Linked DNA regions of Homo sapiens: all the other regions are reported to be linked to region 4. The links are microRNA targets in miRTarBase. Many come from high-throughput screens and were not tested one by one. Region 4 holds a microRNA gene; each other region holds the end of a gene's coding sequence.
What was found. Region 4 holds the annotated microRNA hsa-miR-544b (ACCUGAGGUUGUGCAUUUCUAA, at 4,630-4,651, shown strand). A microRNA usually pairs through its seed, bases 2 to 8, with sites in the 3' UTR of a target mRNA and lowers its output. Matches are read on the target gene's strand: a 7mer-m8 pairs with bases 2 to 8, a 7mer-A1 pairs with bases 2 to 7 and ends in A, and an 8mer does both.

Region 1 (8,127 bases), not on the chromosome of region 4:
TTTATCAAAAATAATGGGATTATTGAAATTCTTTGATTAAAGTGAACACATTTAAGCAATTAGAAAACTAAATTTAGCCAGGTATGGTGGCTCATGCCTGTAATTCCAGCACTTTGGGGGCCTGAGGTGGGCAGATTGCTTGAGTCCAGGAGTTTGAGACCAGCCTGGGCAACATGGATAAATCCTGTCTCTACAAAAAATATAAAGATTAGCTGCAAGTGGTGGCATGTGTCAGTAGTCCCAGCTACTTGGGAGGCAAGGTGGGAGGATCACTTGAGCCTGGGAGGTCAGCGCTGCAGTGAGCCATGATTGTGCCACTGCACTCCAGCCTGGGTAACAGAGCGAGACCCTGTCTCAAAAAAACCAAAACAACAACAACAACAACAAAACAAAACAAAAACTAACTGTAAATTTGGGGAATTTCCATCGGATTTAGCTAGTAAAATATACCTAGTCTAGACAGATAGAGAGAGATTGAAATTCCTTGAAAGACTTAAAGTAAGAGAGAAGTCATAGGTTAGATTAGATTAACCTAATTTTACCCGAGTAACAGATCTTTTGCTGTATTTGTCTGTGGCCAAAGAGGCTTGGATTGCTTAGTCTGTTTTGTGATCTTTGAAGCTTTAAGGTAACGTCTGAACCTGCTTTTGTTGTTTGGGGGAGGTCAGATGGGATGCTCTTATGTAGCCATCCTCACATCATTTTTGTATAAGCTTTCACAGTTGGAGTCTTGAGACCTTGTTGGGGAACTTAACAAAAGGTTCCAGGAATGAGACCATTATTCCCTACCTAACATCTCTTCTTTCAGGATAATGATCAGGTCAAGTATGATTTGTCTTTTTTCCCCCCCATTGAAGCTCCAAGTTATATAGCTGTACCTGATCCCAGTGTCCTGAAACAAGGCTTCTCTAAGGACCCTTCAACCTGGTCTGTGGATGAAGTGATACAGTTTATGAAACATACAGATCCTCAGATATCAGGCCCCCTCGCCGACCTCTTCAGGCAACATGTAATGTATCTTTTGATCCGGTTTTCCTGCCGTAATGCCTTTGAATGACCTCTGTGCAGGCCCTTCATTTGGATGCTGTGTGGATGGTGGGGGAACCCTATCAACTGATTTTTCCATATGTGAGAGAGGTTATTTTTCCCAAGATTAGTTCCTTAAATGGTAGATTAATGGTCTGTTCTTTAAGTGAGTATCCAGGTGCCTAAAATACAAACTGCTTCAACTTCTCAAGATACGATGATTCAGCATTGCAACTCTCAGGTGTACCTTCCCTTTGTGATGACAGATACAAGGATCCTCCCCGACCTGCTCCCAGCTCAGTGCCAGAACCATGAGTAGGAGGGGTTGACCACAAGCTATTACAGGGTGGCCTTCCTCCAGTGAATCCAGCAACTTTATAAGATTAAGTACATCCTTTTAAACAGGAACTCACAAATACCAAATAATATGCTTCCATGACATAAATTGATTAAGGTAATAAAGAATTTTAGGAGGATGCCTTGTGACTATTAAGTAATATTTTCAGTGTTTTCTAACAAATCAAATGAGTGATCTATTATCTGAGGTACCCTTTTCACTATCGCAAGAAAATCAGTAGTTTTAGCATCTAACCAGCTTCAGACAACTAACTGATTAGCCTTCAACATAATGACAACACTGTATAGCACATTTACAGTTTGCATTGATATTGACATATTCCTGGCCCTTCTCAGAAAGTTATTGATCATCTGAAATTCATTTCTACCATTCATAATTTTTGATCTTTTGTCATAGATATATTTAGTATTTTATTTAACACACAGTATTTAAAGTCAGATTGTTTGATACTTGGGACATTTTTTGAAGATACAAGATTAAATTTTCTTAAAGTTTGAACTAAATTCATAAATTATCAAATGATGCTTCACTGTATAAATTATATTTTTAATAGTTTTCAGGAAATAAAGCATATTCAGAGAATATATATCCGGAGTATACAGCTGCTGTATTTTACATGTTCTTATGTATAAATAATTTGATATGAAAGCATTATTAATGATTATGATTTCCTTCTCTCTGTAGGAAATTGATGGGAAGGCTCTGTTCCTACTCAAGAGTGATGTGATGATGAAGTATATGGGGCTGAAGCTGGGGCCAGCATTAAAGCTGTGTTACTACATTGAAAAGCTTAAAGAAGGAAAATACAGTTAAAAAAATGTGTAAGTTTAGATTGGACATAATTCTCAGGTGTACTGTTAACATTTTAATTTAAAAGTATTTCTCTTAGCAGTTTTTGTTTTGTAGACAGTTCCCATAAAAATATTTTATCAGAATTGCAGAACTGTAGTAACAGTTCAGTCAACTTTGTTTTTTTCCTGGAGTCACCAACCAGCTTTGGGAGACACAGCCGCCACTCCCCCAGTCTACTTCTTTAAAAAGCATTTAACAGGTTAGTATTGGCATATTCAAATTGGCAGTTCTTTATGTCTTTTTAAATTTTCATTGTACAGTTTACAAATATACTTAATGTAGTTAACAGAGAAAAACCTTTGATTTTGGTTAACCTTTATATCTAGAACCAAAACAGCTAAATCCCAAAGGGGAAAATATCAGGGATTGACAACTTCTATAATTAAATCCATGAGAATTTTTCCTCACTAGAGAATTTAAAGGTGCACCTGTAGATATCATCTTTTCTCAGATATTTTGTGTGATACTCTGTGGTGTTCTGTTCATGTTCTATCAGTATATCTAGAAAGGGAATAGCCATATAAATTATTTTCCTTTTATTATTTCTCTGTATGTTGTATTTGATCATATTTAAAGGAAAAAAGCAAGCTTATAAGCTTTCATGAAGTGTTCTTACCAGTTTTTGATAAATTTTTTAAATTATAGGATAGAATTGTCATTTTATGCAGGAGATATTTATACTACGAGGGTTGTTTGGATGGAGTCAGATTAAATTTTTTCAGTGAAATTCCTATTATTTTAAAACTTTCCATATTTTCACTACGCTTGGACATTTAACTAGGCATTCTTTTCTTACATCTCTATATGAAGATACCTGTGTCCAAAATTTTTGAAGATATATATTGTATGTGTTTATTCTTCATATGGTACTTTACCATATTTATATATTGTTTTATACCTGTAGGTTTACACACAAGTAAATCTTTTTTTTCTTGAATTTAATCTGGCACTTTGCACTGCCACAGAGGTGACGATGAACTATGTATATAGTTAGATGTTTTGATTTCGTAAAAAATATATGTCCATCGTTTGCTATCACCAGTACCTCTCAGCTTACTCTTCAGGGGATATGAAACAATCTGTAGATTGGTTTCCATACAGGGAAGTTCTCTGTCCTATGCAATGTTTCTAATTAATTTGCTTAGTTCTGAGCCATTTATTCTGCTACACTTTGAAAGATATATTAGTTCTGACTTATTGTTTGGGGCTTTATTTTATTTTTATTTTTTTGAGATGGAGTTTCACTCTTGTTGCCCAGGCTGGAGTGCAATAGCTCGATCTCGGCTCACTGCAACCTCGCCTCCCTGGTTCAAGCAATTCTCCTGCCTCAGCGATTACAGGAATGCACCACCACGCCCAGCTAATTTTGTAGAGATGGGGTTTCTCCATGTTGGTCAGGCTGGTCTCAAACTCCTGACCTCAGGTGATCCGCCCACCTCGGCCTTGCAAAATGCTGGGATTACAGGCATGAGCCACCATGCCCAGCCATGTTTGGGGCTTTATTTTATAAGTTAGAACTTTGAAGAGGAAATGGTGCTATATGTTTATTGTTATTACTTTGTGTAACTTTGATGTAATGTTTATAAGCTATGAGAATCAGTTATAAAAGTATTAGCCATTTGTTGTAAATGCCAATAAAATATTCACCAGGGGCAAGAATGTACATTTTCTTTTTAGAAAACCAAATGTACTTTAGACATGAATGCAACTATTTAAAGAATAGCTTCATTTATGTTATTCCTTACATGTCATAAGATTCTTACTTAAACTTGGTCTTCTTTCAAGTTGTTTGTATGAAGATGCTGTACCCACTTGAACAGTCCTCAGGTGTTTACATAAATACTATGTTTTACAGTTTTCATATTTTAAAATATTAATAAAGTTAATCGCAACGATTCATTCAAAGCCTCAGATGTGATTTTATTTATCATTAACTGCATTACATTAAAGTGTCTATTTGTTGGAACTGAAACAGAGCCACTCTAGTAAGCTTATGGCTTTCCATGTCCAAATACTTGAGTTTTAAAACCTGCCCAGATTCTACTGCTAAACAGATGCCTAAGAGCCAAGGGCTGATTTCTTACAGGGGTCTTCAATGAGACCCCAGGGGGGCTGTAAGAAGTTCAGTCGATGAGCTGTATCTGTACTCAGAGCCTTTGTTATTTATGATATCATCAGTGATGCGAGAGTGCTAGAAAATGCCCGTGCCCCGAGATATCTCATCCCATCTGAGCCTGTACGCCTGGCTGGCAACTCCAGCTGCTCTTTTACCACTGGGGGCCAGAGGCCGCCTCCTGGATGCACCTGCTCTTGGCCCTCTGCCTTCAGATGGCCCAGCTGCCCCGGTGGGATGCCCTTGGAGGACTGGGGTTACAGTTGCATAGCCTCACTTATCCAACCCCTACCCCCACCCCAGGAGTTGCGGCTCCACCCGAGGAACCCAGAAACCCTCACTACTCTTGCTCCCCAGCAGCGTGTCCTGTGATTCACTGGAGACAATGGGGCCCTGACCGAGGCTCCGGGGGTGATGCTCAGCGGCTGGAATGGGGGTGTCGATTTGAGTGATCTGAGACTTGAGTGATTCGGGGCCCCCTTTTTTCTCCTATCTGGCTTGTAGACTTTTAGTCTATAGACTATCATGCCATATTACCCTTCCTGTGAATTTTCCAGACTTGAAATGATCTTCCTCTAGCTTTGCCTCTCATTCCATCCTTTGATGCTTTGTAGCCTGCAGAATTCTGCATCTTGAGCTCTAAGACCTTCCAGGCACACCTAGCATTTGCTTTGGTCTTTCGTCTGTGTGATTTCTTATTGTTGAAATGTCTTACAGTAAATGTTCTAGAGTGGGATTTCCTGAACTTTTAAACCAAGGCCTCCCTCTGTAGGCATAGAAACACCATGCCCTTCTGTAATATTCAAAAGTAAAAAGTAAATACTGTGAGTAGTGGCAGTGTAATTGGGAGGAAAAGCACTGCTTTTTCAAGCTGCAGAAGGGATTGTCCTCGCAGTTGGCTGAGTACATGAAGTAGGTTAAAATTTCTGGGGCTATAGCTGGATGCTGGGGCTTGCTCACAAAGTCTCCTGAGGCTGATCCAGGCAATGTGGGAGAGCTTTAGGTATGAGAGGATGTGCAAACGAGAGCCCACCGTTGGAATACGTGGCGGACAGTCTTTCCTCTCTTCTGTTTCCTCTCTTCTGTTTGCCCTATTTTGTCAGCAGGTTGATGCCACTAAACCTTAAGAACGACACTCCATAGTTAGCACGTGCTCAAATTGAGCTTGGCCACTCCCCCTGCTCTAACAGAGGCAACTCTAGTGTTATGGGATCACCTTTCTGCCTTTAGGGATACTATCAGCATTGAGGGGAGATCTTTAAGAAAGAAGGGACCTAGCTCCTCCCCTCGAGCTGCCTAGAACATAACAGACAAACCAGCGTTCATGAAAAGGAGAACATCAGGGCACTTATGACAGAGCATATGAGTCAGTGCCAAGTGCCCATAAGTGACGTGTCCTTATGTATCAGTAGTGGTGTGTCCTGTTCTCCTGCCATAGAACTGAAGCACTTAAGCACATGCATTTGTGGAAATAATTCCTCAGGGACAACGGGGCGGCCAGGGCAGGGTTTTGGCCTTGCCAAGCCCTGTTCCTCCTTTGGCCTCACTCTTCCACCTGGCTTTGGCTAGCCTTGGAGGCCCAAGTCCACTAATGTCAGGGGCGAGGTGGGTGCACATATTCCACGGGGGCAGAAATCAGTCCATTGGGAGCAGGACACATATCTTACAACTTCCTTTTATATTCATGTAAGACGAAAAAGATTAAGCTTCTCTGCAGTTAATGTACGGAGTCACTGATGTGTTCCAAAGGGCTGAACATTGTTGGTACTTGCCACCATCCCAGCCCTTCTTGGTTCCTCCCTGTCCTTAGAGGCATAAAGCCTGGACGCGACACTTGCCACACTCCTTTGCCAGTAGACCTGGATTCTTAGATTCTGCCCCAAGAGACCCTGTGCCCTGATTTGGGGAGGAGGGAGGTGAGGAGAAGCTGCTTCCTTCTGGTGGCTGCACACGACAGGCTTTCGAGCATCAGCAGGAGGCAGATGTGGGGTTTGCCAGCAGCCTCTGGATATCACCTTGAGACTCACCCACTTCAGTCGTGCAGGCAGCTGAGACCACTGGGGGCAGGGGAGCTTCCCTGTGACTCTTGCAGTCCTAGGTTTCTAGAAACTTCCTCCCTCACCTTAGCCCCTGCCTTCCAGGAGCCATATAAGCTTCTGATTCTGTATTAAACCACTTCCATTCTGAAGATTCAGAATGGCTCATATGTCCCTGACCAGACCTGGACTTGTCTACCTTCTTCAGCGTATCTGTCCTGTAGAGGTGGCCCACCGTTCAGAAAGAAGAGTAAAACTCCCACAGAAAGTGGCCTTTATATTATCTAGTTTAAATGAACTAGTATATTTCATCAAATCTAAGACCCCGTTGATTGTAAGATGCATCGTTTACCAAATAGTGAAGGAAAATGCTACCTATTAAATCACTCACCATTGATTATAATATGCAAACTGGGCTGGGCGTGGTGGCTCACGCCTGTAATCCCAGCACTTTGGGAGGCCGAGGCGAGCGGGTCACTTGAGGTCAGGGGTTCTAGGCCAGCCTAGCCAACATGGTGAAACCCCGTCTCTACTAAAAATACAAAAATTAGCCGGGTGTGGTGGCACGCGCCTGTAGTTCAGCTACTCTGAAGGCTGAGGCAGGAGAATCGCTTGAACCCGGGAGGCAGAGGCTGCAGTGAGCTGAGATTGTGCCACTGCACTCCAGCCTAGGTGACAGAGTGAGACTCCGCCTCAAAAAAAAAAAATGCAAACTGATTTCATAGATGTTAATGTGAAAAGATGGGTGGCTTAAGACATAAAATGTTAGCTCTTAAAAGCTGAACAGGTGGTTTTATTTATTATTTATTTTTTTATTTTTTTTTTTGAGGCAGAGTCTCTCTCTCTTGCCCAGGCTGGAGTGCAGTTGTGCGATCTCAGCTCACTGCAACCTCCGCCTCTTGGATTCAAGCGATTCTCCTGCCTCAGCCTCCTGAGTAGCTAGGATTACAAGTGCGCACCACCACACCTGGCTAATTTTTCTATTTTTAGTGGAGATGGGGATTCACCACGTGAATTTGTCTTTAGTGGATTTGGGGATTCATTACCATAGCTCAAAAATATGGTGAGATGCAACTGATACATTTCCTGCCACGGTTCATTCATTCATTCACTTTTTTATTTATTTGCATATTGGATGTCTTTCCCCACTAGAATGAACTCTTCATGAGAGCAGTGAGTTTCACCAGTTTTGACTCTTGCCATCAGGAATCAATTACTTGTTGATAGAATCGTAATCCTGGGAATCAGATTGAGGCTGTTTTTAAGTAGCAAACACATACAGAGCCATTCCACAAGTGTCAGTGAATGACTGACATAAGGTGCCATTTGGCCTTCGGATTATTTTCTGATTGGTTTCACTTCTGTGTTTTACATACAGCCAGTCAAGCACTGAAACTATAGGAAGAAAGAGGGAGTTATTGGAGGACGGTGTGGCTCTGAAGAGAATTAAAAACTGTAAAATCCCCAACCAGCCACTGGTTTAACATGACATCTTGCTGGCAGCCATTGAGTCACTCACTCTCGCCTTCTCACTAAATACCTTTTGGAAAAAGAAAATGACCAGAACACAGGGTACCCCTGAAAACTAAGAAGGGCAGGCAAGCTTTTGCCCATCTGGGAAATATTTCTACAACTCTCAGGCCCTTGAAGCTGGATTGAGAAAATACGTACATCATCAATTCTAAGATGTTCTTTTTTTTCCCAGGCATGAACGTGTCTGACATCTGGATGGGTTTTACAAT
Region 2 (8,016 bases), not on the chromosome of region 4:
TGATCTCAGCTCACTGCAAGCTCTGCCTCCCGGGTTCACACCATTCTCCTGCCTCAGCCTCCCAAGTAGCTGGGACTACAGGCGCCTGCCACCATACCCGGCTAATTTTTTGTATTTTTAGTAGAGACGGGGTTTCACCGTGTTAGCCAGGATGGTCTTGATTTCATGATCCATCTGCCTCGGCCTCCCAAAGTGCTGGGATTACAGGCGTGAGCCACCGCACCCAGCCGTGCCCAGGAGTTTGAAACCAGCCTGGGCAACATGGCAAAACCCCATCTCTACAAAAAATACAAAAAATTAGCTGGGCATGGTGGCACATGCCTGTAGTTCTAGCTGCTCAGGAGGCTGAAGTGGGAGGATCGCCTGAGCCTGGGAGGTTGAGGCTGTAGGGAGCTGTGATTGTGCCACTGCACTCCAGCCTAGGTGATGGAGTAAGACCCTGTCTCAAGAAAAAAATAAATAAATAAATCAAAACAGTTTCTCCCAGGAAGGCATACGAATGGCCAATAAGCACATGAAAAGATACTCAACATCATCAGCTGTCAGAAAAAATGCAAATCAAAACCATAATGAGATACTACTTCAGGGGAGCAGTGGTTCACGTTTGTAATCCCAGCACTTTGGGAGGCCAAGGCAGGCCAATTGCTTGAGGCCAAGAGTTCAAGACCAGCCTGGGTAACATGGTGAGACCCTGTCGCTACAAAAAAATAAAAAATTAGCAGCCAGGCACGGTGGCTCATGCCTGTAATCCCAGCACCCTGGGAGGCCGAGGCAGGTGGAGCACAAGGTCAGGAGTTTGAGACCAGCCTGGCCAACATAGTGAAACCCTGTCACTACTAAAAATACAAAAGTTAGCCGCACGTGGTGGCATGTGCCTGTAATCTCAACTACTTAGGAGGCTGAGGTGGGAGAATCGACTGAACCCAGAAGGCAGAAGTTGCAGTGAGCCGAGACCACACCACTGCACTCCAGCCTGGGTGACAGAATGAGACTCTGTTTCAAAAAACAAAATAAAATAAAATAAATAAAAATCAGCAGGGTGTGGTAGCATGCACCTGTAATCCCAGCTGCTTGGGAGGCTGAGGTGGGAGGATCACCCCAGGAGGTCAAGGCTGCAGTGAGCTGTGATCATACCACTGCGCTCCAGCCTGGATGACAGAGCCAGACCCTGTCTCAAAAAAAAAAGAGCTATCAGGCTGGACGTGGTGGCTCACGCCTGTAATCCCAGCACTTTGGGAGGCCAAGGTGGGTGGACCACCAGGTCAGGAGTTCAAGACCAGCCTGGCCAAGATGGTGAAACCCCATCTCTACTAAAAATACAAAAATTAGCTGGGCATGGTGGCGGGCGCCTGTAATCCCAGCTGAGACAGGAGAATCACTGGAACCTGGGAGGTGGAGGTTGCAGTGAACCAAGATTACGCCATTGCACTCCAGCCTGGGCAACAGAGCAAGACTCCGTCCCAAAAAAACAAAAAGTTCTGATTTCATTTTAACCAGTACAAGATGCAGGAAGGGAAGCTGCCTGGTGACGTTCTTGCTATTCAGCCATGGCCTCGAGGCAGCATTATTCATAACCATGAGTAGCGTGGCCTTTCTGAACAGCTTCTGAAAAGCACGTTTGTTACTGCAGCTTTGCAGTTTACCTCCTTCTACATTCAGGGCTCAAACCCCGTTTAACACACGCCCCCTACTGGGCCACTGAGAACTGCTCGTCTCTGCAGATCCCCTTCCACCCGGTGTGCAGGCTCCCTGTGCACAACTCCCCTCCTCCCGTCCCTAGGGCACCGCCTGAGTTCACATTGTGGCCTGCACTGCCAGATCTCCCTCTAGCCTCTCACCAGCTCCGTCATCCTTAGAGAGGCACATCTCTAAGAACACTGATGCCATCACTCAAAAACATTTGGCTGGAAGCCGGGCACGGTAGCTCATGCCTGTAATCCCAGCACTTTGGGAGATGGAGGCTGGCGGATCACTTGAGGTCTGGAGTTCAAGACCAGCCTGGCCAACATAGTGAAACCCCATCTCTACTAAAAATACAAAACTAGGCCAGGCACGGTGGCTGATGCCTGTAATCCCGGCACTTTGGGAGGCTGAGGCAGGCGGATCACAAGGTCAGGAGATCAAGACTATCCTGGCTAACACGTCAGGATGTAGACATGTTTAGTAGAGAAACCCCGTCTCTACTAAAAATACAAAAAATTAGCCGGGCGTGGTGGCGGGCGCCTGTAGTCCCAGCTACTCGGGAGGCTGAGGCAGGAGAATGGCATGAACCTGGGAGGCGGAGCTTGCAGTGAGCTGAGCTCACGCCACTGCACTCCAGCCTGGGTGTCAGAGTGAGACTCCGTCTCAAAACAAAACAAAACAAAACTAGCCGGGCATGGTGGCGCATGCCTGTAATCCCAGCTACTTCTTGGGAGGTTGAGGCATGAGAATGACTTGAACCCAGGAGGCAAAGGTTGCTGTGAGCCGAGATTGTGCCACTAGCCTGGGCAACAGAGTGAGACTCTGTCTAAAAAAAAAAAAAAAAAAAAAAAAAAAGGAAAGAAAGGGGGGAGGGGAGGGGGGAGGGGAGGGGTGGGAAGGGGAGGGGAGATTAGGTGAGTTAAACTGGAATTGTGGGGGAATGTTGGCCAAGTGGCAGGCAGGGTGGGCCTGGGCCTGAGGGAACGCCATGGGCCCCTAGACTTGTTCCTGCTGACAGAGCGCCAGCGGCCGGGCAGGAGCATAAGCAAGGTGGGTTTGCATCTGTCACTGGAGGAGCGCTCCGAATGCTTCTCAGGACAAAAGCAGGAGGCCGCCATTGTTCACAGGATGTGAGATCTAATATGGTTCAGGCTGGGGCAAATCAGTGAAGATCAAAATCCCTCGTCTTCCACAATGAGAGACTGGAATCAAAAGTGGATGTGCTCCCACCTGCTCACAAAGGGTCCTCACGTGCCCCAGGGCCCTCCACTGGGGCACAGTTCACATTAGGGGACACACAAACAGCCTGAGGGTGCCCAGTCGCTGAGCAGCCCCAGTCGCTGTGCCGTTACCAGCAGGCAGGGCCCTGCAGGAGACCTTGGCCTCCCCAGACCACAGGGGCTGCAGGGCTGCTGCGGGGAGAGGGCCAGGCGGCCGCAGCACAGCTGGGAATGGCTCCAGAGGGGAGGGTGGAGAGTGCGCTGGCCCCTGGGGGCACTCAGAGAGGAGCTGCGTGTGTTTGGCACTGGTGGACATGGTGTGTGGCAGTGTGAGCCAACAGGCCAATGGGTGGCAAGCATAGGAGGCTTTATGGAGCACCCTGAAGAACCACTGTGTGGAGGGGAAATGGCCCCCTGTGAGGAAAGTCCTAGCAGCTGGTGGAGCGCAACCAGATGCGGGTCCAGACTGATGGGGTCTCCATGGCAGCCCAGGTGGGAGGCGGAGGAGGAGAAGGGAGACAGTGAGAAGGTTGTCACCAGGCCCTCACTAATACCCGGGGAGCAGCCCGTGTGCAAAGGAGGTGAAGGATGGTGGTTTTCTTTTGTTTGAGATGGAGTCTTGCTCAGTTGTCCAGGCTGGAGTGCAATGGTGCGATCTCGGCTCACTGCAACCTCCGCCTCCTGGGTTCAAGTGATTCTTCCGCCTCAGCCTCCCAAGTAGGTGGGATTACAGGCATGAACCACCAAGCCCAGCTAATGTTTGTATTTTTAGTAGAGACGGGGTTTCACCTTGTTGGCCAGGCTGGTCTCAAACTCCTGACCTCAGGTGATCCACCCACCTCAGCCTCCCAAAGTGCTGGGACTACAGGCGTGAGCTACTGTGCCCAGTCGAGGATGGGTTTATATTGGGAAAACCAAGCCTATCAAACTTGGTGAAAACGACCACAGGATGCAACCCTCTGGCCTGGGACCCACCCCATCAAGTGTGTGGGGGCTGACAAGAAAACAGCAACGGCTCCCGGACAGCTCCCAGCAGGGCTCACTGCTTAGCCCCAGCCTAGCGCTGAATGGGGCTGTTCCTGGCCCGACAGCCTCCCGAGGCCTGCTGCCAACACCGCACCCTTCCCACCCGTGTCCTGGAAGTGCTCAGAGGAAACATCTGCCCAGAACATGACATCACTAAATCATTAATGAGACAGTCACTATATGACATAAATCCACTTAGCAGAGCCTCACTCTCACCTAGCAACTGGGTCACCAGCAAACTAACCACTTGGTGTGACTCTTCCATTAGGACTGCGTGGCCCCGGAGCCTCAGAGGCCAACGTTCCCAACCAGGGACTCCACCCTTCTCCCAGAGGGAGGCAAAAACAACACAATGTAACTGAGAACCGGGTTGTAAAAACCGGTGGAAGAGCTGGGAACAGTTAACGGGGTGTCTTTCACTTCTGCGTGTAGGAGCCGAGGTGGAGCCGCCAGCTGTGCAGAGGACACCCCCTCCTGGGAGGTAAGAGGGCTCGCCAGAGCCAGCAAGGCGTGCGGGCAGGGTCCCTGTGCGGTGGTACTGGTTGTTTCTGAGGCAAACAGAACTCCCCCCCTTTTTTTTTTTGAGACGGAGTTTCGCTCTTATTGCCCAGGCTTGAGTGTAATGGCGCCATCTCGGCTCTCCGCAACCTCCGCCTCCTGGGTTCAAGCGATTCTCCTGCCTCAGCCTCCAGGCTAATTTTTGTATTTTTAGTAGAGATGAGGTTTCACCATGTTGGCCAAGCTGGTCTCGAACTCCTGACCTCAGATGATCCACCCTCCTCGGCCTCCCAAAGTGCTGGGATTACAGGCATGAGCCACTGCGCCCGGCCACAGAACTCCCCATTTTATACAGTGGGAAACAAAGGTGCAACGACCCCAGGGACAGGCTTGGGAAACAGCTAATAAACAGCAGAGCCAGGCCACAAGGCCAAGTCTGACTCGGGGATCTCCATCCCACACCCGCCATCAACAGCAAACACATTAAAACTAAACCCCACGGCTGGGCGCAGTGGCTCACACCTGTATTCCCAGCACTCTGGAAGGCTGAGGCAGGCGGATCACCTAAGGCTGGGAGTTTGAGACCAGCCTAGCCAACATGGTGAAGCCCCATCTCTACTAAAAATACAAAAATTAGCCGGGCATGGTGGTGTACACCTGTAATCCCAGCTACTTGGGAAGCTGAGGCACGAGAATCACTTCAACCCGGGAGGCAGAGATTGCAGTGAGCTGAGGTTGCGCCACTGCACTCCAGCCTGCTGGGCGACAGAGCGAGACTCTGTCTCAAAAACAAAACAAAACAAAACAAAACTTAAACACCAGGGAACACACACAACACACATACCAATAAGATCACGAAGAAGGAATGGCTGAAAAGCCCACCAATTGTAGTTTATTTGGAGTCCAGCCAAGTACCATTTGTGTTGAAAAGACCTATTTTTCCCTAATTGGCAGTGAAACATCATTAAATATATGTACTCATATACACACACACAATATGGCATGTACACTTGACACACGTCCATGCATGGGCACTGAGAGAGCCTGGGCAAGTCAGTTAAGACCCTTATCTGAAGGACATACCCTTGGTGCCATTTGGGAGAACAAACTCCTGTTACTAGCATTGCAACAAAAACAGGTGGCAAGCTTTAAAGATAAACTCAAGACAGCGAGTGAAACTTCAGCAAATACGTGTTAATACGACCATGAGTAAAAGGCCCTTCCTGGCCGGGCGCAGTGGCTCACGCCTGTAATTTCAGCACTTTGGGAGGCGGAGGCGGGAGGATCACCTGAGGTCAGGAGTTCGAGACCAGCCTGGCCAACATGGTGAAACCCCGTCTCCACTAAAAATACAAAAATTAGTTGGGCGTGGTGGCAGGCGCCTGTAAGCCCACCTCTTTGGGAGGCTGAGCCATGAGAATCGCCTGAACCCAGGAGGTGGAGGTTGCAGTGAGCCTAGATTGTGCCATTGCACTCCAGCCTGGGTGTCAAGAGTGAAACTCCACCTCAAAAAAAAAAAAAAAAAAAAAGACCCTTCCTAAGAACAGCACTGTAACTCATGAGTTATTACTCAAATGCATCTGTCCATCTACCCACCAACTCAGGTCCTCTCCATACACTCCTGTAAGTCACCGGGCTACCGGGAGACTGCATGGGAACAACCACGCTCGCGCAGCCTGTCCCGCAGCCATCGCTCCTCCCACAGCTCCTGGCTGCCCACGGCGCTTCCCTGTAGCAAACCCAGCTGCTGACGTCATAAAAGGCACACAGCCGGACCTGTCTGTGCTCATCTAGTTCCATTTACAACAGACTCATCCACAAAACCGAAGTGGTAGAAACAGGTCTTTTTGAAGCCAGGCGTGGTGGCTCATGCCTGTAATCCCAACACTTTGGGAAGCTTAGGCAGGAGTATCGCTTGAGCCCAGGAGTTCGAGAACAGCCTGGCCAACATGGTGAAACTCTGTCTCTACAAAAAAAACTTTAAAAAGTAGCTGGGGGTGGTGGTGTGTGCCTGTGTGGTCCCAGTTACTCGGGAGGCTGAGGTGAGCGGATCACTTGAGCCCAGGAAGTTGAGCCACAATGGCACCACGGCACTCCAGCCTGGGTGACAGGGCGAGATCCTGTCTGAAAAGAAAAAAAAAAAGAAAAGAGAAGAAAAGAAAAGAAAACAGGTCTTCCTGGGAGCACCTAGACAAAGGCCTTTGTAAAGATAAATTACCGAGGAATATTTCTAGTTGCCTGTTTTCTTCAAAATCACAGTCAAGTAAGCTGGGCGTGGTGGCTCACCTCTGTAATCCCAGCATTTTGGGAGGCCGAGGTGGGCAGATCACCTGAGGTCAGGAGTTTGAGACCAGCCTGCCCAACATGGTCAAAACCCCATCTCTACTAAAAATACAAAAATTAGCCAGGTGTGGTGGCACACGCCTGTAATCCCAGCTACTTGGGAGCCTGAGGTGGGAGAAATACTACCCAGGAGGCAGAGGTTGCAGTGAGCCAAGATTGTGCCAGTGCACTCCAGCCTGGGCGACAGAGCAAAACTCTGTCTCGGGAAAAAAAAAAAAAATCGCAGTCAAGTAAAAAGAAACGCAACTAAAAGAGCCGTCAGTTAAATACATTCCTCTCTCGTGGCAGGACGAGTCTATAAGATTTGTTTTGTTTTTAATTTAGTGTAAAGTTTTTTTAATGTTTAAACCTTGTGACACATCAAATTACATGCTTGAAGCTGTTACTTTCTGTCAAAAAAGTGAGTTTTTAATATGAAAATTCTGCTTAGGTTAAAAATTAAAAAAAAAAGAGCGAGTTTTATACATCCGCATGAATTGTTTCCTTTAGCACTAGTCAAACAGACTCCATAACCTTCCAAAGAAGTGCCTTCGTTTATTTACAGGGCTTAGGAAAGGAAAAAAGCTCTACAAAAGGGAAATTTCAAAATAGGGCTTCAGCAGGGGCCCAGGTGGAGTGAGTAGTTTTGATAAGGTCCAGGTGGGACTCACTTCCAGGTGGTGAGGACCGCTCTCCCCGAGTCTCTCGATCGGCCTGCTCTGGGCCCCAGAGACTGACCCTGACGGCTTCTCAGCTCCCGGTCAGCCCCGTCACCCTGGGCCAATTCTTCATCATACCTGGAGACAGAAACAGCCAGGATCACGGCAGGCTCTCTTTCAAAGGCAACAGGCAGGGCCACCAGGCTGCTGTGTGGCAAATATGACATCACCCAGAGAAGCGGCCTGAGGGGGCCCCACCCTCGCGACTCCTGCTGGCTCCCGCCCACCTCCCACCTGGCTCCAGCCCACCTGCCTGCCAGGTGGCTCTCGCAGCCCAGCAAATGCTCCCCAAGGCCAGCCTGCCTATGTGTACAACCTTGTTGTTATTGTGGACAGTGGTCTCCCCTCGGAAGCTGACATTTTATACAGGTCACCAGGTCAAATATGGCAATGACTCCAAAGGCAACATGCATGAGGTGACACAGAACCAGCCCAGGGTAAGTGAGGTGAGACTGCCTGGCTGGAAACGCTTCACACAAGGCACCTGCAGGCTGGGGGGACTAACTCCATTCCAGATGGGAGTGGTACATGAGCACTGGTCAGTGGAG
Region 3 (5,000 bases), not on the chromosome of region 4:
GAAAGCCTCCCAAGTAGTGGAGACTGTAGTGGGTCACGCCACCACGACCAGTTAATTTTTTAAATTTTTTTGTAGAGATGGGGTCTTGTTATGGTCTGGAAATCCAGCACTCAAGTGATCCTCCTGCCTTGGCCTCCCAAAGTGCTGGGATAAGTGTGAACCACTGTACTCAGCCAGTAACTTATTTTTAAATTGTAACTCCAGGACACTAGGGTATGCTTGGACTTTCTATGACAGAAACTTAAGAAAATTCAAGACTGCAAACGTGGTAACTTTAATCAGTTTTCAATGAACAGTCATTCACTATGAAGATGATAAGCTATACTTATAGATTGTCTTATTTAATCTCAATACACAAAATAGCAATGTTACAGAACTTAAAAATTAAAGTTTCTTTATAATTAGTGGTACTTATCAAATATTTTATGTAAGTTTTTTTACAGTTCTTTGTAACTCACCATTATTAAGACATACACTTAGAATTGTTTCTTCTGTCCTAAAGGTTCAAAATAATGTTCCCAACCTTCCTTTCTGGCCTCAACTGTTGTTACACTACTTTCCTTCTGTACCTCAAATTACTTGCCTTTCTCTGACTTTGTATGCAGTAGTGACTCTACCCCTAAAGTCCTACCCTATTATTCTATTGCTTTAAAGCCCCAGGAAATGTCACTTTATCCATGAAAGCCCTCCAGGTCCCCTCAGGAATGATTCTTTATCTTTGCACCCATATCTCTATATCATTTACCCAAAGCTTCTTTTATACTGTTTATTAATAATATATAGTACTAATTGGGGTTTTTTGAGGACTAGAATAGAATTTTGTTTATTCTTATTTTGCTTTGCTTTAGTCCTTCCTAACGCCTAGAACAGTGACTTGAACAAAGTAGAGGTTCCATATTTTCATTGCGTGAATAAAGGAATGTTGGTATACAACTGTTGATAATCTCTAATTCCCAGCCAACTGTAGCCAATGGCACTTATTACTGAGATAATTAACTGCAATGCAGCTTATGGCCAAGAAAGAGTATTTTCACTGTGAATATAGCTCAAAAAAATCAAATCTATGATTTAAAATTTTAAGACCATGATCCAATAAAACAACTATGTATATGTGAAGTTGATACAAAGAACTAACCATCTTGAATCTAAAGGAAAATACATAAAACTGTATCGTGGATATCAATGGTAGATAGAAATGATATTCTGTCAGTTTTCTTACAATAACTGAACAATCACATGAATATACCTTTTCTGGAAGATGTTCATTAAATGTTAAATCATCAAGGGTTAAAACTAAACTTCATTTGATGCTCGCCAAGAAGACATTAAACAAATCATGACAGATTAACAATTTCAACTTCTATAGATTTTTTAAGATTCTTTTTGATTACACAAGGTCAGCTGCCTCATAAAATTCTGTTAGATGTCTTTGGGCTTCCTACATTGCTTCCATCTAAAGGTTGCTTCAATTTCTCAGCCTAGACTTTTACAAAGCCTGTAGATTGTTTGTCTTTTGTGTTTTCTAAGTGCCTGATAATTAAAATTTCAATTTAATGCTAATGAGAGTCAGAAGTAGAATTATCTATACAAATCAAAATTAAGGTGAAAATCAACCATGAACCGTAATTCCCAAGTCTCTGTCTACACTCCTATGCCTTTACTTAGCCTGGGTTCTAGAAGAAAATCCTCACCTACTTACTACACATTTCTACTTTAAGTACCTCAAGTTTACCATGCCCAGATCAAACTCCCTGAAACTAGCCCTCCTTCTCCATCCAATTTTCCCACCTCTGTTAATTAGTTCATCATTCTCTCAGTCACTGAGGGCATATATGATGGTAGCTTTTGACCATCGCTTCTCATTCACCTTTTCATTTTTTGCCACATAATTGTAAAGATTCATTCTTCAAAAGGTCTCTTATTTCTACAGTGAACCCATGTCGTTCCCATGTAGCCAACATCGTTTCCTTTGGAAAACTACCCTTTTCTTATTTGAAATGAGGTTGTGAAGCACAATAACTCACCCCATCCCCACTGAGAAACCAGCATGTTACCTGTGGCCTGTCAGTTCATGGTGTCTCATCTCCTTGGTAAATGCCATTGGTCAAAGGGGTAGGTTTATACTGCAGTGGAAGCAATCAGAATTTCCTTCTTGGAATTCATAATTAGATATTATAATAAATGCTCCCTCTACTAGAATTGCTAATCTAGAAATAAGTGAATTTGCAACTACTAGCAGCATCTTCCCAGCTATCTGCAGGGAGTCTATTTACAGTAGAAAGAGATCAAACCAGAGAATGCATGAGAGCCAATATGGAAAGGCAGAGAGTTTTGACATTGTTTAGTCCCTGGAGCCAGCCACGCTCAAAGTCTACGCCATCCCTGGAATTGCCAGTTAGATGAGTCCAATTTCAAAATTCAGACTCTACAACTTTCTACCTAGGTGAACTTGGACAAGCTACTTAACCTTTCTGTGCCTCACTTACCTCATCTATAAAATGGAAGGTACTATTAGTACCTACCTCACAGGGTTATATGAGAATTGGCATTGTAAATGCTCAATAAATGTTAGCAATAACCGTCAAGTGCCAGTGAATTCTAATGTTTGATCTTTGAATTGGGGTCCTGTCACAGCAGAAAGAGTACAGATGAGAGGGCTTTGATTTTAAAAACATGCTTGGAGTTCATTCTTCCCCCGCCTTTGCGTTATGGTCACCCCCATGAGATTCCTGAGCAACATTTCAGCTGGCTTGTCTGACCACTTCTTCACTCTCTACAATCCACCTGAATCACTAGTGTGAGGGCCATCTGCACTAAACATCACTGTCATCATGGAATGTCCTGGCTCCAGTTTCTGTTCATATTCCTCTTCCTGATTTCCCAGGTCCCACTTTCATTGTCCAATGAACGACCTCTCTCCCCAGCATTCTGGTCGGCCTCATATCCTGCCTTTCACGAGATCATGCCTTGCCAATTTGTATCCTTCTGCCTTTCCTTCAGTCATCACCCTCATCATCCCATCTTTTTTTCCCTCGAGATAATCAGCTGCAATCATTCCTCCATGCAAGTTCTGCCCCCTCCAGGATATCTCCCCTGGCCATTGTGGCTTTCACTGCTTTTATTCTCCTTGGCATTCCAAGTCATGTTAAATTCTGTAACATGCAATCAGAGATTATCCCATATTGTTTCAGATGGGTGTAACCCAACTAGAATGTGAAGTTTTTAGGTTAGATTTTTTGGCATGTCCCCAAACTCAGCAATAAGCACACAATCAGCCTCAAAATAAATATTTTGTATAGGGTCTAACCATAACACTAACCATTCCTCTTTTTTTTTTTTTTTTTTTTTTGTGAGATCAAGTCTCGCTCTGTCGCCCAGGCTGGAGTGCCGTGGGGCGACCTCAGCTCACTGCAACCTCCACCTCCTGGGTTCAGGTGATCCTTGTGCCTCAGCCTCCAGAGTAGTGGGTATTACAGATGTGTGCCATCACGCCCAGCTAATTTTTGTATTTTTAGTAGAGATGGGGTTTCACCATGTTGGCCAGGCTGTCTCGAACCCCCAACCTCAGGTGATCTGCCCGCCTCAGCCTCCCAAAGTGCTGGAATTACAGGTGTGAGCCACCGTGCCCAGCCCTTCCTATTACTTAAATTTGGTAGTTTTGAGAGAATTTGTTTCAGAGTAACACAACTTTTACTGCAGTTACCTAATCTTGATGCAAAAACTCAATTCTGAGAAGCACACAAATACTTAAATGACAAAATAAGGCAAATTTAAGACAGTTACATGTCTTTATTACATAAACATCATAATATTTCTCATAGGAGTTGGTCTTCAGTTTGCTTGTTGCTTTCGCAGAATGTCAAATATCTATAGAAAATGTCTAATTATTTATGAACAAACATTCCCATCCCTGCCCCGCAAAAAATCTCATTGCCTGCAATTCCTAACCAGATTCCTGAGAAAAATAATAGGATTTATTTTATAGCATCATACATAGATTTTCTTTCAAGATATAAAAAAGGACAGACTTCTAAAACATGAATCTCCTTTCGTTTACAAAGTTCTATAAAAATACATTAAGTATGTTCAAATGTTTGTTCTTTCACTTTATATTCCAGTTTACCAGAAACAAAAAATGGCAGTACATAAAGATATGTAAACCACATTAATCTTGCAGTAATATAATGTCAACATCATCATGAACACCTTGCAGAAGCAGCTCTCCTGGATATGTTACAATCTTCCTTCGTTTTGCAGCTTTAAGAGTTCCTACCAATGCTTCAAAGAGGTTGGCACATTTATCATCACGGAAGAGGACCCCAAATTTCACGCTTAACTTTCCATCAGCATCTAGTTTGAGAAAATACATTGTTAGCAAATGCAAAGTCTGTTTCATACCCTCAAGTATGGAAGACTTACAAAATCTTTAATAAATTTATAACTATGGGCTATCCAAGGTTGCAATTTAACACTTAACAGTCATAAATTCAACATATTCTCTTCCCTGATCCAAAAAGTAATGGAATAAATACATGCTATATGCCTCTTGGCCTTAGGATTATCCAGACAAAGACTGAGAACCAACATTTACAAAAGTTGAATGTGCTACAGTGCTAATACTGCAGATGAATTTCTCTCCCTCTATTTTTATTTGTTAATTGTTACGTGAGTTTTTGAATCAATAAACACTACAAATGAAAGAGAAAACCAGGATCAAGAGCAGTGTTTCTCTAAGTGTGTTCTGAACACTCGGAATCCCCAGGGTGGGAGTGGGGGGCTCCTTAAAAATGTATAATCATCAGCCATTCATCAGGACCACTGAATCTGAATTCCCAGTAGTAGACTCAGAAATCTGTATTTCATATGAGCCCTAGATTATCTTATTTGGAGGCCAGTTTTTAACATATACATTGAAAGTTAAGATAGACCAAAAGTAGATCTGTTGTTAAACATCAATAACCTGAAAACCTGGAGGCAAGGGTAATCTGGGAGACACCTCC
Region 4 (8,127 bases):
TGTCTCTGTGTGTGTATAGTGTAGGTCAAACAATAATAAATAATTAAATAACAGTACCTCAGCCTATATTTTTTTGAAGGGGAGTGGTTCAGAGGAATCACCAATATAGTTATGGAATATTAGCAAAAGCCCTAATACAAATGATAATCAGAACCCCACAAGCTCAGTCTAAAATAGATATCAGAGTAGAATACAGAAGGGATTCAGTAAGCAATATAGAGCTAGGTCCATGAAAAGGCTCAGATTGAACTACTGCATGAAATTTTACATTCATGGAAACTCTTTAGGGTAAATACCTAAAATAGTAAGACTAAATATTGGTTAAAGCCAAGATCCTTTACCCAGCCTAAGTAAATGAAATGGAGAACACAAAATGAATTGGTACAATCTATGTTCCTCTGCTTTTTTTTTTGTTGTTGTTGTTGTTTGTTTGTTTGTTTGTTGTTGTTGAGACAGAGTCTCTGTTGCCCAGGCTGGAGTGTAGTGGCATGATCTTGGCTCACTGCAACCTCCACCCCCTCGGGGTTCAAGCAATTCTCCTGCCTCAGCCTCCCAAGTAGCTGGGACTATAGGCATGTGCTACTATGCCCGGCTAATTTTTGTATTTTTTGGTAGAGACGGGGTTTCATCATGTTGACTGGGCTGGTCTCGAACTCTCAACCTCAGGTGATCCACTTCCCTCGGCCTCCCAAAGTACTGGGATTACAGGCATGAGCCACCACACTCAGCTCTACCAACTTTTTATCAAGTGTTTTTGAGTGAACTATCTTATTGAATCTTCATAGTGATTTTTGGAGAAAGTTAATATTATTATCTTCATTCTTTTTTTTTTTTTTTGAGCGCAGTCTGGCTCTTTCGCCCAGCCTGGAGTGCAGTGATGCGATCTCGGCTCACTGCAAGCTTTGCCTCCCGGGTTCACACCATTCTCCTGCCTCAGCCTCCCGAGTAGCTGGGACTACAGGCGCCTACCACCATGCCCAGCTAATTTTTTTGTATTTTTAGTAGAGACGGGGTTTCACCATGTTAGCCAAGATGGTCTTGATCTCCTGACCTCGTGATCCGCCCGCCTCAGCCTCCCAAAGTGCTGGGATTACAGGCGTGAGCCACCGCGCCCGGCTTCTTCATTCTATTTTTGAGAAAATTGAGACTCATATAGCTCAAAATGCATTGCCAAAGATCACTCAGCCAGTAAGTAGAATGGGACTAAAATCCAAATGTTTTGGTTTGAAACTTCATGTTCTTTGTAGTGCACTATACAGCTATGCCTTATCTGTTCCTCTTTTTTAAAAAAGTATTTGTTATAGTTGACACATGATATCGTACACATTTATTGGGTACATAGTGCTATTTCAATACACACAATGTACAGTGATCAAATCAGAGTAATTCATATATTCCTCACCTTAAATATTTATCCTTTCTTTGTGTTGGGAACATTCAAACGCCCCTCTTCTAGCTATTTTAAAATATATAGTAAATTATTATTGACTACAGTCACCCTACAGTGCAATGGAACACTAGGACTTATTCCTCCTATCTAGCTGTAATTTGTGTCCTTTAACCACCCCCTACCCTTCCCAGCCTCTAGTGATTACTATTTTATTCTCTAGCTCCATGAGATCAACTTTTTTAGCTTCTGCATATGAGCGAGAACATTTGGTATTTATCTTCCTGTTCCTGGCTTGTTTCACTAACATAATGTCCTTCAGGTTCATCCACCTTGCTGCAAATGACAAGGTTTCATTCTTTATGTGAATTTAAGGGTTATTTTCCTTAAGCTAGAATAAAGTATTGCCTTATATACACAATGGAGAAGGGATTTATTTGTACAGATTATTTATTGATTATTTCTTTAAGGGATTTATTTGTAAAGACCAAATATGTTTGGATTTTCAGATTGTCTAGCAATATTATCCTCCTGGATAACCCTGATACCAATCAATTAACCGTCTTCTAACTCTCCTCCTTCCCTCCCTTACCTTTTCTACACCTATTACCTAAGCATTTGAGGTACGCCAAAGGAAATAAAAAAGTACTCCTCCAGGAAGCAGAGTACAGACAAAAGAGGTAATGAATACTGTAATGATCTAAGTGCTATATATTCCTATGTGCAAACTGCTATGGAACTGTCACGTACTAGATGCTATGAAGTTAATAAAAGAATTGAGTAAAGGTCCCTGTCTTTGATAACTTATATTCTATTTGGAGAAACATGGGGGGTAAATCTTGGCTAATAACTAGCAAATATAACATGTTAGGCCAAGGAGTAGAGATAATTAAGAGAACTAGTCGAGAAGGCATTGGCTATTAAAAAATGGACAGGATTTATGCAAACTCTCATGAAAGGTGGGACTTCATGATCCTACAGTCAATCTAGCTGTTCTGGGCTTTGAACCCCAGCGACCCCATCCAGAAGAAACCAGGAGAAGCACAAACTGGCGCTAGGTTCGCTACCATCCACCTGACCCTTGAGCCCGGGGAAACCCACGGGTGCAGCAAGCCGGGAAAGCTGCAGACGAGGCAGGCGGAAGAGGCGGGACTTCGCGGGTGACGTCATCGGGGCGCCGGAGGCCCGGGGCGCCTGGGAATTTGAAGCAAACAGGCAGCGCGCGACAATGGCGGTCGCTCGTGCAGCTTTGGGGCCATTGGTGACGGGTCTGTACGACGTGCAGGCTTTCAAGTTTGGGGACTTCGTGCTGAAGAGCGGGCTTTCCTCCCCCATCTACATCGATCTGCGGGGCATCGTGTCTCGACCGCGTCTTCTGAGTCAGGTGCTGGCCTAGGAAGGGAAAGGACAGGGCTTGGTGGCGGGAAGGAGGACAAGGAAATGGAAGAGGGTGACAGGAGTTGGGCCGTGAGTGAGAGCAAAAGAGCCAAGCAGGCAGACCGACCCTACTCTTGGTTTGGGGAGTAAGCATGAGAAGCACAGAGGCCAGGGGTTGGGCTCCTCGAGAGTCGTCTGTTCTTTCACCCACACGCTTAGACACGTGTTTTGCAAAAGTCGGGAAACCCAGTTTGGAACGCTTTCTGGCACTGAAGCACACTTGAATGAATTCTGTATATTTAACTCTTTAAGAAAATTAGACTTGCGGCCGGGCGTGGTGCCTCATGAGAGTAATACCAGCACTTTGGGATGCCTAAGTGGGCAGATCACCTGAGCCCCAGGAGTTCGAGACCAGCCTGGGCAACATGACGAGACCCCGTCTCTACAAAAAATTAGCTGGGTGTGGTGGCGCACGCCTGGGACGCTGAGGTGGGAGGATCACCTGAGCCTGGGAGGTCAAGGCTGCAATGAGCTGTCATTGCGCCACTGCACTCCAGCCTGGGCGACAAGTGAGACCCTGCCCTCAAAAAACAAACAAATAGACCGGGAAAACGTGGGTAGGCAGAGAATTCAGTAGCTGGGAAATTACTGGTGAGAAAAGGAAAATAGAACAACCAGAACTCTGTGATGTATACAAAATTTATCAGAGCCCAGAGAGACTTCAACCATACTCCCCTATGCAGCCCCGGGACAATTATTTAAAGGAATTTTGTCCCTGACTAGCTGCCTCTCCCATTATCTTAATGTACCTGGAATGTGTGATACAAAGAACAATGTATAGCTAATCAATCGCTTGTGTTATTATTTTATTTATTTATTTTTTAGATGGGATCTCTCTTACGTCACCCAGGCTGGAGTGCAGCTCTGTGATCATAGCTCACTGCAGCCTGGAACTCCTGGGCTTAAGAGATCTTCTTGCCTCGGGTGAGCACAGGGGCTCATGCCTGTAGTCCCAACTTTGGGAGGCTTTCTTTGGGAGGCTGAGGCGGGTGGATCACTTAAGGTCTGGAGTTCGAGACCAGCCTGGCCAACATGGTGAAACCCTGTCTCTACTGAAAATGCAAAAATTAGCTGGGCATGGTGGTGCACACCTGTAATCCCAGCTACTCAGGAGGCTGAGGCAGAAGAATCAGGAGGTTGCAGTTAGCCGAAATTGAGCCACTGCACTCCAGCCTGGGCAACAGAGGGAGACTGTCTCAGAAAAAAAAAAAAAAAAGAGATCCTCTTACCTCAACCTCTGAGTAGCTGGAACTACAGGCATGTGCCATCATGCCCACCAAATTAAAAATTTTTTTTTTTTGTAGAGAGGAGGTCTCACCATACTGCCCAGGCTCGTCTCAAACTCCTGGCCTCAAAAGATCCTCTTGCCTTGGCGGCTTCCCAAGTAGCTGGGACTACAAATGCCTGGTGCCACCCCCGGGCTACCTCCTGTTATTTCAATGCAAATTCTTGGTGAATATAGGAACTGCCCCTTCTTTTGCTTTAAAAATCCACTTGTAACTACTGTAATCGAAGCCTATAGTCAGGGCAACTACTCATATTAATTTTGCCTCAGCCTCTTCCTGTTAGGTCCACACTTGGAAGGGCTGTTTGGAAAGGGGAGTTGAATTTTGCACTGTGCGGCCAGAAGCAATAATTAAGACTAGAAGGTGGACATATTGGGAAAGCAGGTTTTTAGTCAATATAAGGAAAATTTTTGTACAAATTAGAGGTTTCTAATACAGTGCTTCTCAACTTTGAGTATATATGAATTACCTGGGAATTTTGTTAAAATGCAGAATCCATTTCTGTAGCTCTGAGACTAGACCTGAGGTTGTGCATTTCTAACAAAGTGCCAGCTGAAACTGCAGACCACACTGAGTAGAGGGCCGTAAATATGCTTTCCAATACAGTTTGCTACTAGCCACGTGTTACTATTGAGCATTATGAATTTTTAAGTTTAAATAGTCATATATGGCCAGTGGCTATCATATTGGACTGCAAAGATAGAGAACATTTCCATCATTGCAGAAAGTTCTATCAAGAAGACATATAAGTTTCCTCAGCCCACTTAAGGGTTTATGTTCACTAGGGACCACTTTGTGTGGTTATTGTAAAAAGTATTGAAGATAGGTTGGACTATTAAGGTTGCGGTACTTTGGACCATTAACTTCTCACCATCCAGAATCTTGCTATGGTGTATCTTAGCAATGTGGAGAATTACTAAGGATTTTCTAGGGAAAAATTGATTTATTTTAATAAGCCAGCTGATAAATGACAGAAAAAGTTTTTTGATAACTAGATCATGGTGTGTGTGTGTGTGTGTGTGTGTGTGTGTATTTTGGTGATTAACTGGGGAGGAGTTCAAAACATGGAGAGACTTGGGTATAACAAAACTTCTTTTCACATCTTATGCGAATAGAATTTCTCAGTATTTACACCCCAAAAAGCAATATAATTTATGCTAAACTCTAACTTCCCTTAATAAGTGATAATAAGTGATATTTGACTATAGTACTATATACACATTAGTGTACATAAAGTAATTGGAGAGGAAAGGTAGCATTAACTCACTAAAAATGCATTTTCCAAATCTGTTTTTATCTCTCTGTCAAAATTTGCAAATCATGTTTGAATTAATCATATGCTTGTTATAATTTAATGATATACAGAAGAATTCTCTTCTTTAAAAAGTACAATTTCCATTTTCTTTTCCTCAAGAGAATAGTTTCTCTTCAGTCCTTAAGGATTCAGCTCCTTACATGGGCTTTGGTGAGGGTCATGAGGCAGCACCCACAGGTTTAAATCAGATTGGGGTATTTGGTCCTTGTGGGATTCACAAGATGGATTACTGACTGCCTTGCTGTGAATGGCACAACTCACACCTTAATGTAGCTTCGCATACAGCTTGGGAAGAACATAGGAGGCAAAGTTGCTCACTGCAGTAATGTCCCTGACTGCTGCGGCCTCTACTATGTTTTGCACGACGAGCTTCTTAATGGTCTTTTCCTTGGGCATGCATCGGACATAGTATGTGCCACTACTGGCCACAGCCCTTTTTGGCACGATCATTGTTCCTTTCTTTTCTTTGTCATCTTGGAAGTAAGGACCTGAGAGAGCTACAGAAGAATTCTTGACATCTAGAGACTTATGGTCATGGGAAATTTTTTTTTAATTACCATTTTAAATTTCAGTTTACATACATATAGACAAGTATGACAGAGGGATCAGTAAAAGCTTTTCAAGTATAATCATATATTACTTTAGAATAAAATTCTGTGGACACAGTGGAGTGAAAATATGAGTTGGAAAAAGATGTAAAAAATTTTAAACTTTTCATAGTCCAGCAATTTCACGTTTTGTTTTTTTAAATGGAGATGGTGGATATCCAGTCACTAGCATTTGTATTCCAAGTTTATTCCTTAAAAAGAGTGATAAAACAGTTCTAAGATAATATGTTAATATTTTTAGTACTAGAAATTACATTCTCTGCAACTTAAAATAGTCATAGTTTTTTTTTGTTTGTTTTTTTACTCTTTAGAAGTACTGGTGTAAACCTATGATCTAGTTCACAAAGCAACTCAGTGACTGTTTGCTTTTTTAAAAAAAAAATGAGGTGGTCTTGGGTGGGAATATGTATCCTAACATTAAAATATGATGATTTATGTGGAAAAGGAGATTATAAAATAGCAATTCACACAATAGTCTGTATTTATGAAACTTCCTAATTGAAGGCTTCTTTCAGGATATATAACTAAAAGATGATAGGTTTAGATACTCAGCCTAATGGGTTACTGAGGAAACCAGGAAGTCGGGATCGTCCTTAGTCTTTGGGGTCAACATCATGAGCTTCCCCAGCACATCTCAGGTTGCCTTCAGAACAGATTCTGAGTCTGGTTGAATAGATTCATTCTTGTGTTTTTAGATTTATATTTGTGTACTGGGTTTATGGAGAGGGTAATAAAAAGGCATTTGTTTTTTTTTCTCCAATCAAGTTTGAGACTTACCCCCACTAGTTTATTACTGTCTTTTCTGTTACGTTGTTACATGTTTATACACTATTTAAAATAGTTACAATAGGCTGGGCGCAGTGGCTCACGCCTGTAATCCCAGCACTTTGGGAGGCCGAGGCAGGTGGATCACAAGGCCAAGAGTTTGAGGCCAGCCTGACCAACATAGTGAAACCCCATCTCTACTAAAAATACAAAAAAATTAGCTGGGTGTAGTGGTGCGCGCCTGTAATCTCAGCTCCTTGGGAGGCTGGGGCAGGAGAATCACTTGAACCTGGGAGGCAGAGGTTGCAGTGAGCCGAGATCGCACCACTGCATTCCAGCCTGGGCAACAGGGCGAGACTCCATCTCAAAAAATAAAAAATATAAAATAAAATAAAATAGTTACAATAAAACATTGTTTATGTGTTCATTTTCTTACAGGTTGCAGATATTTTATTCCAAACTGCCCAAAATGCAGGCATCAGTTTTGACACCGTGTGTGGAGTGCCTTATACAGCTTTGCCATTGGCTACAGTTATCTGTTCAACCAATCAAATTCCAATGCTTATTAGAAGGAAAGAAACAAAGGATTATGGTAAAATAAAAGTAACATAAAGCATGAAGTTAATTAATCTGTAACATCATACTCTTAGAATTTTTCCGCTTCTGTGCACTAATGTTTTACCAGTCATCTTGAGTTCTTTAAGTTGTTACTGCTTGTAGAATTTATAATTGTTACTATAAGTCACCTTCCTTTTTTTAGACTTGGGGTGAAATGCTTTGTATTGATTAGGAAATGAAAAGTGCTTTTTTTGGTACTGTATCTATGAAACTCCAACATTTTTTTTTTTTACCAGCCCTTCCCTCATCAGCAAAATGTTGTAACAGCACATACTTTCCCAGTATGTTTGTATTTAAACTTCATGAAAAGTAATCCATGGATAAAATTACTCTCATAAAGCAGTGTAAACACCTCAGAGAGATATTTTTGTGGGTTCATGGCAATAGATTATCAGGTGACTTGCTTTAAAACCCGAAAATTTGTCCAGGCACCATGGCTCACGCCTGTAATCCCAGCACTTTTGGAGGCCGAGGTAGGCGGATCACTTGAGGTCAGGAGTTCAAGACCAGCCTGACCAACGTGGTAAAACTCCGTCTCTACTAAAAATACAAAAATTAGCTGGGCGTGGTGGTATGCACCTGTAGTCCCAGCTACTGGAGAGGCTGAGGCAGGAGATGCGCTTGAACCCAGGAGGTGGAGGTTGCAATGAGCTGAGATTGCGCCACTGCACTCCAGCCTGGGCGACAAAGTGAGACCCTATTTCAAACAAA

Region 1: miRTarBase lists SCML2 as a target of hsa-miR-544b. Seed matches in the 3' UTR shown: 7mer-m8 at 3,654-3,660 and 7mer-m8 at 4,058-4,064.
Region 2: the mRNA of TTLL1 is a reported target of hsa-miR-544b. The part of its 3' UTR that is shown has no 7-base or 8-base seed match.
Region 3: the mRNA of ABRACL is a reported target of hsa-miR-544b. Seed matches in the 3' UTR shown: 7mer-A1 at 3,954-3,960.

Annotation. Positions count from the first base shown.
Region 1 is chrX:18,235,321-18,243,447 of GRCh38, reverse strand. It overlaps SCML2 (Scm polycomb group protein like 2), which reads left to right. Exons shown (of 15, transcript NM_006089.3): 14 at 858-1,009; 15 at 2,069-4,135. The coding sequence ends at 2,197. Among named protein-coding and RNA genes, the nearest start is that of BEND2, 18 kb to the right of the region's middle.
Region 2 is chr22:43,032,360-43,040,375 of GRCh38, forward strand. TTLL1 (TTL family tubulin polyglutamylase complex subunit L1) reads right to left here. Exons shown (of 11, transcript NM_012263.5): 11 at 7,157-7,546. The coding sequence ends at 7,417. TTLL1-AS1 (TTLL1 antisense RNA 1) reads left to right here and starts at 6,226. Exons shown (of 3, transcript NR_125362.1): 1 at 6,226-7,905. RefSeq lists an enhancer at 1,688-2,189.
Region 3 is chr6:139,042,069-139,047,068 of GRCh38, reverse strand. ABRACL (ABRA C-terminal like) reads right to left here. Exons shown (of 3, transcript NM_021243.3): 3 at 3,767-4,350. The coding sequence ends at 4,166. Among named protein-coding and RNA genes, the nearest start is that of ABRACL, 16 kb to the right of the region's middle.
Region 4 is chr3:124,727,857-124,735,983 of GRCh38, forward strand. MIR544B (microRNA 544b) reads left to right here and starts at 4,583; the gene lies at 4,583-4,660. UMPS (uridine monophosphate synthetase) reads left to right here and starts at 2,596. Exons shown (of 6, transcript NM_000373.4): 1 at 2,596-2,771; 2 at 7,237-7,390. The coding sequence starts at 2,616. It also overlaps the pseudogene RPS26P22. RefSeq lists enhancers at 2,254-2,853, 2,266-2,675.